Linked DNA regions of Homo sapiens: region 1 is reported to be linked to region 2. Evidence: microRNA targets listed by miRTarBase, many of them from high-throughput screens and not tested one by one. Region 2 holds a microRNA gene; the other region holds the end of a gene's coding sequence.

The links. The annotated mature microRNA hsa-miR-6722-3p reads UGCAGGGGUCGGGUGGGCCAGG and lies in region 2 at 1,246-1,267, opposite strand. An mRNA with a match to its seed (bases 2 to 7 or 8) in the 3' UTR can be bound and repressed. Matches are read on the target gene's strand: a 7mer-m8 pairs with bases 2 to 8, a 7mer-A1 pairs with bases 2 to 7 and ends in A, and an 8mer does both.
Region 1: the mRNA of LNPK is a reported target of hsa-miR-6722-3p. The part of its 3' UTR that is shown has no 7-base or 8-base seed match.

Annotation. Positions count from the first base shown.
Region 1 is chr2:175,927,519-175,930,518 of GRCh38, reverse strand. LNPK (lunapark, ER junction formation factor) reads left to right here. Exons shown (of 13, transcript NM_030650.3): 13 at 320-3,000. The coding sequence ends at 552. Among named protein-coding and RNA genes, the nearest start is that of LNPK, 73 kb to the left of the region's middle.
Region 2 is chr9:136,745,658-136,749,175 of GRCh38, forward strand. It overlaps MIR6722 (microRNA 6722), which reads right to left and starts at 1,313; the gene lies at 1,236-1,313. It overlaps LCN6 (lipocalin 6), which reads right to left and starts at 2,868. Exons shown (of 7, transcript NM_198946.3): 1 at 2,737-2,868; 2 at 1,767-1,906; 3 at 187-257. The coding sequence starts at 2,826. It overlaps LOC100128593 (a long non-coding RNA gene), which reads left to right and starts at 504. Exons shown (of 3, transcript NR_033913.1): 1 at 504-544; 2 at 1,421-2,915; 3 at 3,089-3,518.

The DNA.
Region 1 (3,000 bases), not on the chromosome of region 2:
ATGATTTTTGGACTTCAACTTTCAGATGTGTCTTTAGTAACTTATTTTGTATGAAAATATGGGACATTAGAAAAAGTATATTTATGGGTTTTTTTCCTCTGAATTACTTTTTTTTTCTTCTATCATACTAACTGTAAAGAGAGTTATGTACTTATTGTAAAAGATTTTAAGGATAATGTTAGACAATTGTATGGTTTCTTTGTGTGTGTGTGTGTGTGTGTGTGTGTGTGTGTGTGTGTGTGTTTATCTTTTTTGCTTGCCTTATTTAGCAGTTTTAACGTTCAGGTATTCCTAAAGTTTTGAATCTTTATCTTTTCAGAATCTTTAGAACACGATGTTCTTGATGATAATACAGAGCAGACAGATGACAAAATACCAGCTACAGAACAGACAAACCAAGTGATTGAAAAAGCATCTGACTCAGAGGAACCAGAGGAGAAACAAGAGACTGAGAATGAGGAAGCCTCAGTGATTGAAACCAACTCCACAGTTCCTGGAGCTGATTCTATTCCTGATCCTGAACTAAGTGGAGAATCTTTGACGGCAGAGTAGTAAATGCTTCCACGTGCCTTCAACTGGATATTTATAGTCTTACTGATGTCAGTTATTGCTTTTTCGGTGGCACTTACTTTTTTTGCCCCTCTAAGGGTATGCTTGTGTATCATTTGAATTCAGATTGCCTAGCTATTTGAACATCTCAAAGTTATATATACTGGGTATTAAAATTAAAAGCAAGTTATATCAGTGAAGTAAGATCCTTTTGAATGTACAAAGACCCACACTATTGAGACAGCTTTTAGATACTTTTTTGTCCATTCTAAAAGTAAGCAAACATGATTGCCTTCTTGTTTTCTGTATGTATAACCCGTAAATATCCATTTTGACATAGGAAGAACTTTGGTTAAGAGTAAGTTCTCTAATTGTGTTTGTTTTAAGGAATGAAACTTGGTTAAGATTTTGACTACTTCATTATTAAAAATTGATAGAATTTTAGCTCCTGAGATATTTACAACTGGGAGAAATGTCTATTTAGGTGTTTACATTAAGCGGTATGAAAGTTGTTACCACATAGGCACTGGTACGAATTCTCAATAAGAATGCAGTGGAACAGTTAAGTAGAACTGTAACTACGTTGGCACTGGTACGAATTCTCAGTGAGAATGCAATGAAACAGTCAACTGCAGTGTTTCTTTTTGATGTCTTTTATTTTACAACTGGGCCAAAGGCACATTATGTATATAATTAGTTTATATTTACACACTAGCATATAGGAAATATTTCTGCACTTGACCCTATTTGAATTCTGAGCATTATTTATAAGTATAAAATGATGATATATAAGTGAATTTTGTGCTCTTGTTTGTATTTTATTAAGGAAAATGAAAATAATCTGGCATCAGTTTCATTTTGCTAAATATCTAGTCTTCTTCAAACAGTATCTTGGTGGGTGACTTGGCTACCTGAAAAATCTTAGGAGGAATAGCTCACAATACAATAAATCTGTAGATTCTGCTTAGAGCAAATTATGGTACTTTTATTCAGACTTGTTTCCTTTCTAGTTAACAGAAATAGTGACATTTAGAGGTTTTAATCAGAAGTTAGGTTTTTCTGATTCAGGAACATCGTAGGCCAGCCATTTGTAATTTTTAACTTTGAGAAACAAATTTTGTGAGAATAGGTAGTGGGTTGCTGGTAGTTAATTGGATTTAATATTTGTATTAAGGATTAACTGGAAAAAATGTGTCTCAGTGCTAATTCTTGGACCTTTAATACAGTGTGCTTATCTGTTACGGCCTCCTTTTATCTCTCTTCTCCAATATTAAAAAAAATGGAAATCAAATTATTATGCTGAAGGGAAAAATATACCTGTATAAGAATGGTGTGTTTGGCTAATGTTTCTAAGTTGCACACAGTTTATTAACAACTGAACAAAACATTTTTATCATTTAAAAATCTATTTTTATGATTTAATATCTCATATGTGACAGTTTTTTTTTTTTTTTTTTTTTGGAACTCAATCTGTTAACAGTCTGGGACATCCGGTATAGTAACCAGAGTTTTTGAGCCTGCCGTATTGGGCTTAAATTTCAGGTCTGTAGTCTTGGGCAAGTCACCTATAAACTCACTGAGATTATTTTTTCATCTGTAAAATGGGAAGAGTTATGTTTATTTTTGAAGGGTATTAGGATAATTAAAAATAATGTAATGTGCCTAGCACACTACCTGAAAACGATGGCATTTGTTCTTATTAATGTCTTTAAAATATGCAAGGACCATAAGTTTTTCCTCTTGCAGATGAGGAAAGTAAAAAATAATACGAACATGTAATTCAGCTTCTCAGATTCAAGCCAATGTTTTTTGCATCAACTTTTCTATATTGTATGTATGTATATAAATACATAGATTAAGGAAATAGGAAACTGAAACTCTGTGGAATATAAACTTTTTAAAAATAATTTCATCAGGTTTTTTGTATGTTACTGACCCATATGGATTTTAGTAACATCTTGCTTAGTCATGTTGTTATAAAACATTCAAATTCTGATATACATTGCTTGAAAATGAGTGAGTACCTCAGAGAAATTTGATAGACTCAAACAGATAGTATGAGAAATATCTTTGAAAGAAATATGGAGGAAGGTTAAAAGGGGATTAGTAAAATTAATGCGATAGGTAACATGTTTGTAACCATATAGTATCCTTTTAGATACAAAAGCTTATTTTCATTATTATTATAATAAACAGTTAATGGTTGAAACTTAGTAAAATGTCCTATTTCTGATTATTAAGACTAGTATAAATGAGAAAATCCAAGCTATTAAGTACCATTAGCTACAGTGATCTTAGCTTCCTTGCTTACAATTGTTCAGTGGGTCATCTAAATTCTTCTATGTCCTGAGCATGATCTACAAACATGGTCTAGCTTCTGTCTCTCCGTCTTCCCGCCATCATTGTGCTGTAGCCATATGGAACTCCTTTCAGTTCTCTGACCATGCCCTT
Region 2 (3,518 bases):
GAACAAGGTTCCAATCCTCTGTCCAGGGGCTTCTCTTCACCCTCAGGATGGGCAGCAATCCCAAGACCAGAACCTGTAGCCTCCTGGCTCTCGGGAGCGGAGTCAGCCCTCCGTCCCTGCCCGCAGGGGGCCTGGGGATGCTGCAGGGAAGAACGGCCTGGGTGAGGCCGTGGCCGTCAGACTCACAGGGATTCTCAAACACCCATCCGGAGTTTCGCTTTATCAGGTCCATGACACTCTGGTCACACCCTCCCAGCCTGGAAAAGAAGGGGCCTGTCACCCACTCAGGGTCAAGACCCCGGGGCCCGGTGAGAGGAGACGGAGCTCAGGAGTCCAGGCCAGGCCAGCCAGCAGTGAGGCCAGAGCTTCCATCTTCTGCCAGATGCCCCGATGCCCGGAAACCTGTTCTCGGAGAGTGGACGGCGTGGGAGTCCTGAGAGGGGCGGACACTCCCATTCACTTCCTGAGAGATCCTCAGTGCCAGATCTCCACCAGGAACGCTGAATGCTGCTGAGGACACAACAGGAGACTCGACAGACGGGAGGTTCGCCCGCGACTCGGGGGAAAGATGGGGTGGGGTGGGGGTTCGCCCGTGACTCAGGGGAAGGATGGGGCGGGGTGGGGGTTCGCCCGCAACTCAGGGGAAGGATGGGGCGGGGTGGGGGTTCGCCCGTGACTCAGGGGAAGGATGGGGTGGGGTGGGGGTTCGCCTGCGACTCAGGGGAAGGATGGGGCGGGGTGGGGGTTTGCCTGCGACTCGGGGGAAGGGGCCGGCGCTCCCTAAGTGGTCAGTCCCCAGAGTGAGCAAAACCCAGCAAAGGTGCAATGGTGTTTGCCAAGGAAGGAAACTGAGGCTGAGTCCATGCGGGAGGAACAGCAAGAAGAACTAGGAAAGCCACGTGGGAGCTGCCACCTCAGCCTGGAGCCCCTTGGTCCCAGCTCGCCCTGAGGCCAGGCCTGGCCCGGGGGGTGCAGTGGGGCCCCTGCCCATACCCTGCAGGCGCAGGTGCAGGGGGAAGGCACGCTGGTGAGGAGGGCAGGTTCTTCTCTCTGGGCCCCGTACCTGGCTCAGTGGTTCAGGCCTGGGCTCTGTCGCCAGCCTGCCAGGGGGTAGACACCCACCACGCCACCCAGCAGGCCACTCTTCTGTGAAGGGAGGCGGGCACCGACTCCTGCCCCAGCACGGCTACCCCCACAGCCCGGCTGCCCTGTAGGTGTCCCCTGTGTAGCACGGCCGCCCCACAGCCTGGCCCACCCGACCCCTGCACGCCGCCACCAGCCATGCATGTGGTCGGGTGCGCCTGCCTGAGGCCACAAGGCCAGTCTGGCCAACAGCGTCCATGACCATATTGTTTGGGGATTTATGTTATGAAAGAACCAGTGGTTCTTAGGTCCGAATGCATTATCCTCCTTTAAACAGAATTCCCGAAAAAGGCCTGCTGAGAGGACAGGCTTCCCCAGCTCTGACCACAGCCTGCAGCCCAGATGACCCAGGACAGGGATGCATGAAGGAGCATAGTCAGAGCAGTGCCCGCCGCGGTATTGAAGGTGGGAGTGCCACCTGGAGGCCCCAGGGACACAGATGTGAGTAGCTGGGCAGAGGGCTGGTGGCTCTGCACAGAGCCCAGTGGGAAAAGTGACGGGGGTGCAGAGGGGCCGTGGGAAGCCCCCAGGCCGCGGTGCCCGGGAGCAGATGTGCAAAGTACATGATGTGGCTGAGCCACAGTCCTGCCTGCGGGAAGGCCTGGCAGGACCCGCCCACTCACCCGTGCTGAGAGGACAGCGTCCGCAGGTTGTTTTCTGGAGTGAGGGTCACCACCACCCCCACGACGTTCTTCATGTCCTTCTCCATGGCAAAGCCCTTTTCCCGGGAGGCCACCGCAAGCACGTACCAGGGCCCAAGAAGCTGCATTGAGGCGGCTCCCGTTAGGGCCGCCAGCCCTCCAGCCTCCAGCCTCCAGCCTCCAACCCTCCAGCCTCAGCCTCCAGCCTCCAAACCTCCAGCCTCAGCCTCCACCCTCCAACCATCCAGCCCTCCAGCCTCCAGCCTCCAACCCTCCAGCCTCCAGCCTTCCAGCCCTGCAGCCTCCAGCCTCCACCCTCCAACCATCCAGCCCTCCAGCCTCCAGTCTCCAACCCTCCCGCCCTCCAGCCTCCAACCTTCCAGCCTTGCAGCCTCTAGCCTTCAGTTCTCCAGCCCTCCAGCCTCCAGCTTCCAACCCCCCAGACCTCCAACCCTCCAGCCTCCAGCCTTCCAGCCCTACAGCCTCTAGGCTCCAGCCCTCCAGCCTTCCAACCTCCAGCCTGCAGCCCTGCAGCCTCTAGTCTCCAGCTCTCCAGCCCTCCAGCCTCCAGTTCTGCAGCCCTCCAGCCTCCAGCCCTCCAGCCTCCAGTTCTACAGCCCTCCAGCCTCCAGCCCAGCAGCCTCCAGCCTCCAGTTCTCCAGCCCTACAGCCTCCAGCCCTCCAGCCTCCAGTTCTCCAACCCTACACCCTCCAGCCCTGCAACCTCCAGTCTCCAGCCTCCAATTCTCCAGCCCTCCAGCCTCCAACCCTCCAGCATCCACCCCTCCTGCCCTGAGGCTCCTGCCTGTGGGACTCCCCAAGGGCTGGCCCAACTAATTCCCCACTGCTCATGCTGGTCTGGGCTAGCCCTGGGGGGCCCAGAAGCTGTGTGGCCTTAAAGGAGGGGCTGGCCCCCGAGGACCAGCTCTCCCCACCCCCAGGAGGACTGTACCTGCTCAGGGTCCAGTCTTCCCAACCACACGGCCTGGGCCCTGGGCACCGAGACCAAAGCCAGAAAAGCAGCCAGCAGCAGGCCGCCCATCCTCCCAGGTCTACACTGCGCCGCAGGCCCAGGATGTGCAGTCCCTCCAGGCCCTGGAGACCCGTTTATATGGCTCTGAATTTCTCCGTGTGGGTGGCACTAACTGCCAGGAACCCTCCTGGCCTCCTGCAAAATTACCCAGGGGAGCACTGAGCAGTGGCAGCCTCTGAGCCCAGATCAGACCAGCTGCACAGCCAGGAGAGGGTCTGGAGTGTGTGGATCAACCATACTATACTGATCCCCTGCTTTCTTCCACCAGAAGGTTCCAGAATGGGCATCCTAAAGCCAGCCGCACCACCTCCCCCGTTCCTGGGGACCCACGCTCTCCCTCGCCCAGCCTGGGAAGCAGGGAGACTGCTGTCCGCTGCCAGGCCCGGCAGGAGGCCAAGGTCAAGCCCAAGGAGAGGAACCAGGGCGAGAACAAGTGGTTCTCAGGAACTGCGGTTTTGGATATCTTTTGTTTCAATCATTAAATATAAAAAGTCCCTGAAAGCCTTTTGAAAAAGGCTCCCACCTCCTCCTGGCCCACCCACCATTCTGCTTTGTGGCCTGGCCTCTGTCCCCCACAGCCAGCACCCCCAGAACAGACTGTCCTGTTCCTTCCACCTCTGCAGCCCACCATCCGGCCCTGCTGCCTCCTGCCTCCCCTCCCTGGGACCCTGGCCTGCTTGTGCCTCCCAAGGCCCCTTGAG